Linked DNA regions of Homo sapiens. The protein of the gene in region 3 interacts with the protein of the main gene of each other region in a biochemical or structural test. Each region holds a gene or a part of one and is shown on either strand. Other genes may lie near its edges. The genes, in order: TOM1L2, SEPTIN9 and MYO6.

Evidence for each region.
Region 1: the proteins of MYO6 (region 3) and TOM1L2 form a complex in vitro, tested with the Homo sapiens proteins (one study listed by BioGRID).
Region 2: the proteins of MYO6 (region 3) and SEPTIN9 form a complex in vitro, tested with the Homo sapiens proteins (one study listed by BioGRID).

The regions. Positions count from the first base shown.
Region 1 is NC_000017.11:17,846,788-17,850,610, reverse strand, and holds part of TOM1L2 (TOM1-like protein 2), read left to right. Parts: intron 1-1,751; coding exon 1,752-1,788; intron 1,789-2,827; coding exon 2,828-2,976; 3' UTR 2,977-3,823. UniProt on the Homo sapiens protein: Acts as a MYO6/Myosin VI adapter protein that targets myosin VI to endocytic structures. May also play a role in recruiting clathrin to endosomes. May regulate growth factor-induced mitogenic signaling.
Region 2 is NC_000017.11:77,396,437-77,400,259, reverse strand, and holds part of SEPTIN9 (septin-9), read right to left. Parts: intron 3,277-3,823; exon of another isoform or gene 3,206-3,276; intron 1-3,205.
Region 3 is NC_000006.12:75,752,239-75,755,838, forward strand, and holds part of MYO6 (unconventional myosin-VI), read left to right. Parts: intron 1-3,600. UniProt on the Homo sapiens protein: Myosins are actin-based motor molecules with ATPase activity. Unconventional myosins serve in intracellular movements. Myosin 6 is a reverse-direction motor protein that moves towards the minus-end of actin filaments.

The DNA.
Region 1 (3,823 bases), on a different chromosome or scaffold from region 3:
ACACACTTGCCTTCCCCCCAGTATCTTTTCCATTTCAGATGTATGTGCCGTGCTTTGGTTTTTTGGGGGAGGGAGTGTTGGGGGAGCATGTTTTTTGTTTTGTTTTGTTTTGTTTTCATTTCTTTTTTTTTTAATTGTGAAGTATACACACAGTGCTTTTGTTTTTAATTGGCTGTCATCCCCCTCCTCCCTTCCTGATTTTTGATGTAAAAGAACCCCTGCCCCAAAGACCCATTGTCTCCATCCTCAGAGATAGGGCTAGAAGATGAGGATACTATGCATCTGAAAATGGCAACAGGTCCCAAGAAAGGAGAGCTGCAGTGGCTGCATGTGATAACTGCTGGCCCCTCCCTCTGTTCTTTACAAAGCACTTTCACTCTCAGCAGCCCAGTAGGGGGCCAGGGTGGCGGATGAAGAAGTGCACTCTGGGAAGTGGCTTGCCCAGAGTCATGGGGTAGTTGGATTCTCCCCCAGAGCTGGAGACACCTCATCTCCCTCCTAGGTGCCTCCTCTGTAGGGGGCCTTGTCCCCAGGCAGAAGAGCCTGTTGAGTTCTTTAACCACAGGGTCAGCCTGGCTGTCTGTGGGCTGGTGACCTGGCTACCTCCCACACCAGGACAGCAGGCCTCAGGTTGGGGCCTCTGGCTGCTCTGGGCCTCCTCCCCAGAAGGTCAGCTTTCCAAACACATGCCTTGCCAAAGAAGGCAGCTGCCTGGGTGTCAGGGAGGAAGAACACACCCCGGGACATCTTTCCCAAGGGGCTGTCTCGAAAAGAAATTGCTTCTCTCACAGAAGCAAGGCAGGAAGGACCAAGGTCCTTAACTTCTAAGGGGGACCCCAGGGTCCAGACAGGGAGGGGATGTGTCCAGTAAGGCTACATAGCAGGTCAGTGGTAGAGTCAGGAAGGAACCCAGGTCTCCTAGCCCAGCCCAGGGCTTTGTCACTTCCCCATCCTGCCCCTTCCCAATGAGGCCCTGCACATGCTGCTCTTCCCCAGTCCCCAGGGAACCCCATGAGCTCAAGACACTACCATGTTCTCCAAACAAAATCAAGTCTGATGCACTTTAATTTTTGAGTGCACAGAGCCTCCATGGCTCCTTGAGGAGCCAGCAGCAGATAATATAATCTGGGCCACGGGAGGAGGCTGGTGCAGCTCCCAGGAGGCTGCAGGACATGGCTTCTGGAGGCACAGCCTCCACTCCCAAAGTACCTACTGAGTGACAGGCCCTGTGCTGTGGGCTTTGTGGCCCTGAGCCATCAAGGCCTCATGCGGTTTCCAGCTATTGGTGTCAACAGCGTCTTCCCAGAAACCCTGTGGCTGGCAGTGAGTGGGTGTTGTGTTGGGCACACGTGACCCTGTGTGTGCTCAGGCTCAGCCCCCTGTGGCTACTGCTCTGTGCCTCTCCCTAGAGCCTCAAGAGTGCCAAAGGTGGGGTCCCGCCCTCTGCAGCCCAGGCTGGAGAACCAGCCTGCACCGTTTTTGGAGTTTTCTTTCCAGCCTTTCTGGAGGATCAAAACCTAAAACATGTTTGAATTTTTTGCTTTTGTTTTTTAAAAACAAAGCTTCTGTTTCTCCAATAAGAAGAGCAGTATTTTACTATTACAGAAATCTGGAAACAGGGAAAATTAGGAAGTTTTGTTCAGGCTACCCTGGGCAGTGCTGTCCTAGGGTGGCCATGGGCAGACAGAGGTGGCTGGGCGGGCAGTGCTTGGACCAGTGCCCTAATTTCATTTTCTCTGCTCCTCCCACAGAAGGGTGATGATCTGGAGGAGGGTGTCACAAGTGAAGGTATGGCCTGGCCAGTGGCCTTACAGCCCCCTTTTGTTGCCTCTGTGCAGGCTGCACAGGAGCCAGCCCCCATCATCTTGGAGCCCCCGCTGCCAGAGCACCTACTGGTGCCAGGCCCTGAGCCATGGGCTTCACGGGTGGCTTTGTCCCACCCAGGTCTTACGCTGATTTGGGAAGTGTGATTTATCTCGCTTATTGGGAAACAGGTCAGAAAGAACATGTCAATTCCACAAAGTTGCAGAGCTGGTGAATAGCGGGTGCAGATTGCCACCTGGTCCTGACCCACAGGTGCTCAGCCCAGCTCAGACACGCAGTTTGTGGAGGTGCGCAGCAGCACCCTTGGGCCACTGAGCCAGAAGGGAGGAGCCTCTCCTGGGCCTCAGCTGATGGGCTGGATGGGAGCAGCGGGGTCTTAGTTCTCCCACATGGCCACCCCCACATCCCCTGCCCTTCACATCCTGCCTCCCCAAGCTCATCTTGCCCCACTCCATCTGCCTCTCCGTGCTCCTGTCCTCCTCTCCCCAGGTCTGCCAGACCCTGTGGCCAGACCGCTCCGCAGGGAGGGAAACTTCAGAGGACCCTGCTCCCTAGCTCTCAGTGCCCATAGAAATGGGGCACTCCCCCCTCCCCACTGCATTCCTCAGCATCTCCTCAGTCCTCCATTGGTGGGCAAGGGTGGGGTAGGTGGGATGGTTCCTGCCTGTTTAATCAGAAGCTGGCCCCTCCAGCTTACCCTGCCCCACCCCCAGTGCTGATCTGGAAAATGGACAAAACCCAGTGCTGATCTGGAAAATGGTCAGCGGTAGGGTGAGCACTCTGGGCTGTGTTTTCCAGAGCCTTTCCCTCCAGGGCAGGAGGACTGGGCACAGCCAGGAGCCTCCCCCCACACTGCAGCTCACGAACCCCTCCCTACCCACCTGCTCCTAGGTGGGCTTCATGCCTGCCCTAGAGGAGGAAACGGGCTGGGGAGTGGAAGGGTGCGCTTCCTCTGGTGGCCTGCCCTCACCAACCCTGACCCTTGCCTTGGTTTGTATTGCAGAGTTTGATAAATTCCTTGAAGAAAGAGCCAAAGCTGCTGAAATGGTTCCCGACCTCCCCTCGCCCCCCATGGAGGCTCCTGCCCCAGCCTCAAACCCTTCTGGCCGGAAGAAGCCAGAGCGGTCAGAGGATGCCCTCTTCGCCCTGTGAGCAGCTCTGTGGTTTGCCTCCCCAGATGGCGGGTCCCCGCTCGCACCCCGTGGACACCGGGCACTGGCCACTCCTACATCCCCAGCTCCACACGGCCTGCACACCTGTGTTTCCATGGAAATGCCACCGTGTCTGCTCCCAGGCCTCCCACTAGTCAGGACCAGCTTCAGCCACTTCTTTTCTCTGAGTGGTGGGACAACTGCAGCCAGAGACTCTCTCCCCTCCCACCATGGGCCCCTCTGCCCATGTTTCCTCCCAGGAAGAGCGGGCAGAGTGGCCCAGCCCCAGGCAGTGCTTCCTGAGCAGACCACCCGGACTGTCTTTCCTCCACCCGCCCATGGAGAAAGAGCACGCCCGGCCCCGCCCTGTGCTCACCTCTGCCTGGCTCAGCGACCTTCTCAGGCATTCTGCCCTCCTGGGCCCCTCTCTCCCTGAAGGGGCTTTGTGGCATCTCTGGAAGAGCAGGGTGTGCTGCACTCATGGGCCTGGTCTCACTCCTTGGACTTGTCACCTTGTGACATTTGGCTTATCAGCATTTGAGAAGGCTCTGCTGGGTCTCCATGGTGGGGGTCTCTCACCTTCTTGACCCTCTCTCCATCATTCAGCTGCCAGCCCAGGCTTCACACCCAAGCTGGCTCAGCAGCCGAGCCTGGCACCGAGGGTCCCTGCAGGCTCCCTGGGCAGGGAGAGGGCCAAGGACAATTGGGAGGGCAGCAGGCAGCCCGCAGATGGTGGCCATGTGGCACGCTGCTGAGACGACACTACCAATAAACCAAACTGCCACGCACACACTGCAGGCTCACACCCGCACACCTGGTCCTGGCTTGTGGAGGGACTTGCACTGGAG
Region 2 (3,823 bases), on a different chromosome or scaffold from region 3:
CTTTATATGATATCTCCTGATCTTTAAATGCTGGCACAAAGCAAAACAAGCCCTTTTTAAAACACTGAGCAGCCTGGCTGATGTGGTGAAACCCCATCTTTACTAAAAATAAAAAATTAGCTGGGCATGGTGACACTCGCCTATAGTCCCAGCTACTCAGGAGGCTGAGGCAGGAGAATCGCTTGAACCCGGGAGGCAGAGGTTGCAGAGCTGAGATCGTGTCACTGCACTCAGCCTGACTGACAGAGCGAGACTCTGTCTCCACAAACTAAAACTAAAAATAAAATAAAACACCGCAGGGCCAAACAAAATCAAATCCACAGGCTGTATTCGCCTATGGGTCCAGCCATGACCTCTAGCTGATCACGTGGCCGCAGGGCAGCAGGACACTGAGCCCCAGAGTCAGGGGTGTGCCAGGTGTGGGCTCCCGACATGGTGTCCCTCTGTCCCTCTGCACCCTGCATGCAAACTGCTGGCTGTGTTCTGATTCTGCAGAAGCCCCAGGGCCCCAAGGAAAGGTTGAATGTCCACTTCTACCAGCCAGAAAGTCCAGGGTTCAATGCCCAGAACTGAATGTAATGAGATGGGCTTACCAAGCTCATCACATCTACACCCGCTTAAACCTGGGCTGTAAAGAATATTATTACCGCCCCCGTACAGATGGGGAAAGTGAAGTACGGGGTAGACACAGAGCCAGACTGTACATCGGGCTGATGCCAGAAAGTGCAGAGCTCAATGCCTGGGTCCTCGTGCGGTTCCCAGGGCCTCCCGCGGTCCTCTGATCTGCTCCCTGCCTCCTGAGCACTGTCCAAACTGTCCCCACATGGTGTGCCTCTGTCCTATGGGTGCTGTAGAGCAGGGGCCGGCTTCCAGGTGTCCTCAGCATCCTTCCGTGCGGTCAAGTTGGAGAACAGAAACTAGACAGGAGAAGGCCTTGTCCCAGGTCCAACCCAAGAAAACAAATGACCTTCCCTGGGAGATCCGGTGAACCCCCTCCTTGGGAGTCCCCTTGGAGTCACCCCCACCATGGCCAACTCATGATCGAAGACACTGCACCAAAGCAGAGGCTGCCCTGGTGTGAGCTTACGATTGAGTCTACGGTGCGGATGCAATGATTTATTCCAGCCAGGCCCACGTGCACAAGCGGATCATTCTAGAACCGGAGCTGGCCCCTCCCCTAGGGCACTCCTCCTTCCTCCAGTTGTCTGCGTGGCTGGCGCCTCACCACCTTGGCCATCTGCGCAAAATGCACATGTGTGCCGGTCCCCAACCATCCTCTCCTCTCTTTCAATGCTTGGTGTCTTTTCATGGATGGGTCCCTCCCTCCCCACTAGCTGGCCTCTGTGCTTACTGCCTGGCTCTATGATCCCTCTGGGTGTTTCGGTCCAGCACCACTCCCATGCCCACTAGCTCTCAGTAAGCTCTGAGACAGCAGGGGCTGTTCCACCCGCAGGGGCCACCCCACCATCAGGACGGCGCTGCTCAAAGGCGAGTTTGTTCTAGATAACAGCCAGGAGATCTCACAGCCTCCAGAACTGCAAGAGAATACAACTGTGTGCTAGAAGAACAGTGAGAACAGGAGGCGCCCCATTCCGGAGGTGTCCATCTTCCCCAGGAGATGCCCCACTCTGGGGGTGTCCATCTTCCCCAAGGAAACCATGTCCCGGCTGGAATGTCAAGAAGGTGACACCTAAATGAAGAGGTGCCCACCCTGGCTCACGCCATCCCCCCAAACGAGCATGCCACCGCCTCCTCCTCCTCTTGGGAATCCTCCTCAAAGCCAAGCCCACTCCAGCCCCCTTCCCGGGGAGCTGGCCTCCCACACAGTCCACACCACCCCCTCCCCATGTCATCCTGGCCACGTCATGACTGTTGAGATTGGCTACGAGGGGTGTGTTCCGGCTCCCCGGGAACAGAGTTGAATGTTCTCTACTCCATGACACCATGCCTTCACCAGGCCTCAGGCGCTTCTAGAAAACCTACTAAGCCAGGCGTGGTGGCTCACGCCTGTAACCCCAACACTTTGGGAAGCCAAGGTGGACAGATCGCTTGAGCCCAGGAGTTCAAGACAAACCTGGGCAACATGGCAAAGCCCCGACTCCACTAAACAATACAAAAATTGGCCAGGGGTGGTGGCATATGCCTGTAATCCCAGCTACTCGAGAGGCTGAGGTGAGAGGATCACTTGAGGCCAGGAGATCAAGGCTGCAGTGAGCCATGATCACACCACTACACTCCAGCCTGGATGACAGAGTGAGACTCTGTCTCAAAAAAAAAAAACAACCAAAACCTACTAAATGCCAGGCGTGGTGGCTCATGCCTGTAATCCCAGCACTTTGGGAGGCCAAGGCAGGCCCAAGGCAGGCGGATCACCTGAGGTCAGGAGTTCGAAACCAGCCTGGCCAACATGGTAAAACCCTGTCTCTACTAAAAACACAAAAAATTAGCTAGGCATGGGGGTGGGCGCCTGTAATCCCAGCTACTTGGAAGGCTGAGGCAGAAGAATCACTTAAATTCGGGAGGCAGAGGTTGCAGTGAGCCCAGATCGTGCCACAGTACTCCAGCCTGGGCGACAAAGCAAGACTTCATCTCAAAAAAAAGGCTGGATCACAGGATCACAGGATAGGCACAAGCCCTGAGGGAGCTCCCAAGGAGGAGGGACGCACTAGACCTTCACCCCCATTTCAGCCTGTGAAGATTCACTTTCGTCTGAGGTTCTGTAGAGGGTTGACTAGTGACCCCCAAAAAGACATGTCTAATACCTAACCCCAAGAACCCACGAATGTGACCTTATTTGGAAAAAGGGTCTTTGCAGATGTGATTAGGGATCCCGGGATGAGACTATCCTGGATTTGGGATGGGCTCTAAATCCAGTGCTCGGTGTCCTTATAGGAGAAAGGCAGAAGGGGACTTGGGACACAAAGAGACACGGTGGGGAGGGCTACGTGATGAGAGCAGAGACTGCAGATGCTGCCAGAGCCAAGGAGCGCCTGGGCCAACGCAAGCTGGAGGAGGCAAGGAAGGGTCCTCCCCTCGAGCTGTCGGAGGGAGTGTGGTCCTGCCAATACCTTGATGTCAAACTTGTGGCCTCCAGAACCATGAGCGAATCAATCTTTGTTGGGCCACTTGGTTTCCAGTAATTTGTTCCAGCAGCCCCAGGACACTCACAACGAGACCCCTGGGAAGATGAAACCCCTGGCTGCACAGTGGCCCAGGGTGAGGCTAGCTGGTGTGGTCACCCACTCTCCAGCCCAGCCCCAATCCCACCACAACCACATTCGACAAATGGCCCACTGTGGGCCAACGGACACGTGGCCATTCCAGAGCTGCCACATCAGGAGCCCAGAGGAGCGAGAGCTGCCTCCTTCCCCCTTCTTGGAGTCGCACAAAAACCCCAGATGGTTGGAGAAGTCATCGGAGGAATCACATCACTCTAGATTCTTGTTTCATTGCTGGGATATGTGGCAATGAAACAAGATCATCCCTGCCAGGGATGCCTCATGGGCAATTGCCTCCCCACGGAGGACATTGTGAGTTGTACCCAGCCGGGAAACATTAGGAGATGTCTGTCACCAGGCTGGCAGAACAGGGCTCCCCAGCATCTCCTCCCCCATCAGAGTCCTAAGACTGCGCCCTGGGTCCTGCAGTCACACACGGTCGCCCCTCTCTTCCCAATGTGCAGGCCTCCTGGGAAGCCCCCTGCCACCATCCTCACAGTGGAACCGGCATAACCTGCCCAGGGGTAGCAGGTCCTTGTCACTTTACACGTCTCCATCTTCCCTGTGGAGGGAGACGCAGCCAAGGGGTATCCACATTCACCCAC
Region 3 (3,600 bases):
GCCTTGGCCTCCCAAAGTGCTGGGATTGCAGTTTCATAGAGTTTAATTATGATACCCATAATGAGATATTTCATAATAATTTGTGAACTGGCCCTTTACTAGTATAAGATTGTTGCACATTTATTAGGCATCTTCCATAATTGGACAGATCACAGATTGAGGGGCTTGATCTACAAAATAATTTTCTAGGCTAATGGTCTTGTCCTTTTACAGATGAGGGAGTCTAGTCTCAAAGAATTAAATGCTTGCTCCAGAAGGGCAAAGTCTGGATTCACACCTGAGTCATTTGACCACGAAGCCCCTGTTTTTTCCACCAGAACAGTTTGCCTTGGTTTCAGTTCACTTGGTGGACTGTTTAAACCGGCAAAACTGGTATTATGTCAAAGAATGTAATTCAAGGTTTGACAAAAGCATCCAGGAGTAGATATGATAGGCCGTGAATGTAGTTCTGGAACAAATTTAGAATCCTGTGTTTGTGTCTTCATTCTCAAGTTGACAGCCTTGAACACTGATGCTGCTGCTTTCTCATTTCTCGTATAGTTCTAGGACATTATATGTATTGTGCATGTATGTATGCTGTTAAACATATGTATGTGTTTAACTTTGATAGGTTTGTGAGAACTAGAATTAGATTGTAATGTTCCTGGTTGGGATAGAACTTTAAAATTTTCCTCTAATGAAAAAGATAATTATTTATGCAGTAGCTATCCTTTAAATATTACATAATTAATTCTCTAATCTTGAGAGGGGGGACTCGTTTTTAGATTATGATTAAATTGTCACTTAGAAACTATTAGTACAAATCTTTTCTATGGTCTGTGGAATATCCCTTGAGCCGCAATAGACATAAATGACAACAGTGAGCAAATAAGCCCATTTTTTCTGGTAACAAACTAGGAATCATGCATTTCAGCAGTAGGATGTAGTTGGGTAAATGAGCAGAAGCAAGGTAGGAAGGCTGAGTTGGGTGGCTACCATTACGGATTTTTTTCATTATTTGCTTTGAACTATTAGGAATTGTGCATCTCAAGGATATTCATATTCAACTGTAAATACAAAACCACCACCTAATATAAATTAGTAATATTACTAATATAAATTGGTAATAGATCTGTGACACACACATCAAGAAGTAGAGTTAAATAAGCTTAAGTTCTCTTTTGGAGGCATTATATCTATATGCATGTATCTATGATCTATATATGTGTGTGTGTGTGTATATATATATATATATATATATATGTTTTTTGGAGACAGAGTCTCATTCATGCCACATGCAGTGGCATGATCTCGGCTTACTGCAACCTCCATCTCCCAGGCTCAAGTGACACTCCCACCTCAGTCTCCGGAGTAGCTGGGACCACAGGTGTATGTCACCATGCCTGGCTAACTTTTTTGTGTTTCTGGTGGAGAGGGGTTTTGCCATGTTGCCCAGGCTGGTCTTGAACTCCTGAGCTCAGATAGTGTGCTGCCTCGGGCTCCCAAAGTACTGGGATTACAGGCATGAGCTACCGTGCCTTGCCGGCATTATATAATGTTCAGAGGAACCAGGATCTTTTCATTTAAAATGGTTCTGATTTTATTTGACAAATTTGAGTGGACTAGAATCTTTAAATATTTTGCAACGTCTTTCTAGTTACTGTTTTCAAAAATTAGCTTATTTTTCTTATTGATTAGTGTAAGAATGACATAATGGTTTGAGAAATGACCATAAGTCCACCAAAAGTTTTCCCTGTGAGTACTGAAGCATAAAAAGTAAAACCTAAAGAAGAAATCTGGCATCTTTAGAAATCTTGCTGGTGCTAAAGAGAGAGGAAATAATTTTTTATACAGAAGGCATGTCTCAAGTGAAACCAAAACACCAAAGCACATTCCTTCAGTGTATATTCACATGGGGTAAATATGATGCTGAGTAATGTGCACAAAGGAAACTCTTGACAAAAACACAGTCATCTTTTGAGTATGTTAGGTCATTTGTTATTTCATTTGAAAATAACCTGGCTGGGGCGTGGTGGCTCACACCTGTAATCACAGCATTTTGGGAGGCCAAGGTGGGTGGATCACCTGAGGTCAGGAGTTCAGACCAGCCTGGGCAATGTGGTGAAACCCCATCTCTACTAAAAATACAAAAATTAGCTGGGTGTGGTGGTGGGTGCCTGTAATCCCAGCTACTTGGGAGGCCAAGGCATGAGAATCACTTGAACCTGGCAGGTGGAAGTTGCAGTGCACTGAGATTGGGCCACTGCAGTCCAGCCTGGACGATTGAGTGAGACTCCGTCTCAAAAAAAAAAAAAAAAAAAAAAAAAAAGTAAGCCGCTGACTAACCTTTACAAGGTAATATATTTTCTGTGGCAGAATTTTTTGATTTCTGATCTATGTGGATGAACATCTTTTTCAACAGATATTTACTGAGGGCCCACTGTGTTTTAGATATGACAAGTGTGAACTGATTCCTCCCTGTGCTGGCATATCTTTGGATCCAGGAAATAGGAAGAGTTGCAGAGATATGAAAAAATAAATAGAAACCATCCATTTGAAATCCAAAGACATATACGTCAAAAGCTAATAACTTATATTTGGATGGCATTTTATTGCTTTAAAATATTTTTGTATGCATTTGGTCCTTAAAACAACTTGATGAAGTAGATTTAGTAAATTTATTCCTTTTCTACAGGTAAGGAAATGGAGACTCAAAAAATTAAAAATACTGGCTGCATGTGGTGGCTCATGCCGGTAATCCCAGCACTTTGGGAGGCTGAGGTTGGGAGGATCACTTTAGCCCAGGAGTTTGAGAACAGCCTGGGCAACATGGTGAAACCCTTTCACAAAAAATATTATACAAAAATTAGCTGGGTGTGGTGGTGCACGCCTATAGTGCTAGCTGTGTAGGAGGCTGAGGTTGGAGGATCTCCTGAGCCCAAGAGGTCAAGGCTGCAGTGAGCTGTGATTGCACCACTGCACTCCAGTCTGGGTGACAGAGCAAGATCCCGTCTCTAAATAAATAAATACATTACTTAAAATTAAGTAACTTGTTCAAGGTCAATGTGGCTACTTAGAAGCATCATCTCTGTGTAGTCCCAAAGTAGTAAGTCCTCCACTTTCCCCCTATTGCTTATGTATTTAACCTCACATTATGGCTTCAAGTCAGGTGGTTCAGGAAGTTCTGAAAAATTAGGGTCACTAAAATGGTGATTATTAAATTGTTACAGGTTATTTTTTAATGGAAGATAGAAGATGAGCATGATGCATCATTATGGAACTACTTTAACATTTTAAATAGATTGCTAGACTGAAATTGGTAATTAGCTTTTCTAGTTGGAGAATTTTTAAAGAACAATTAGTTAAAAAAAGGAAGGAGAAAAATGTTCTGGGGGAATTTTGAAAATAACTTTTATTACTTTGTGCATTGGTAGTGATCCGATAGTTACAACTGTCTTTGTAAAGACTCACTAAAGAACTGTGTGTGCGTCTGTGTTGGTTCCTTTATGTCTTCATTTATTTAAAACGTACTGTAGTGTCTACCACGGACCAGGCACTATTCTAAGTTCTAGGGATACAGTGATTAAATTAAGACCAAGCCCCTGTACTGACATTTTATTG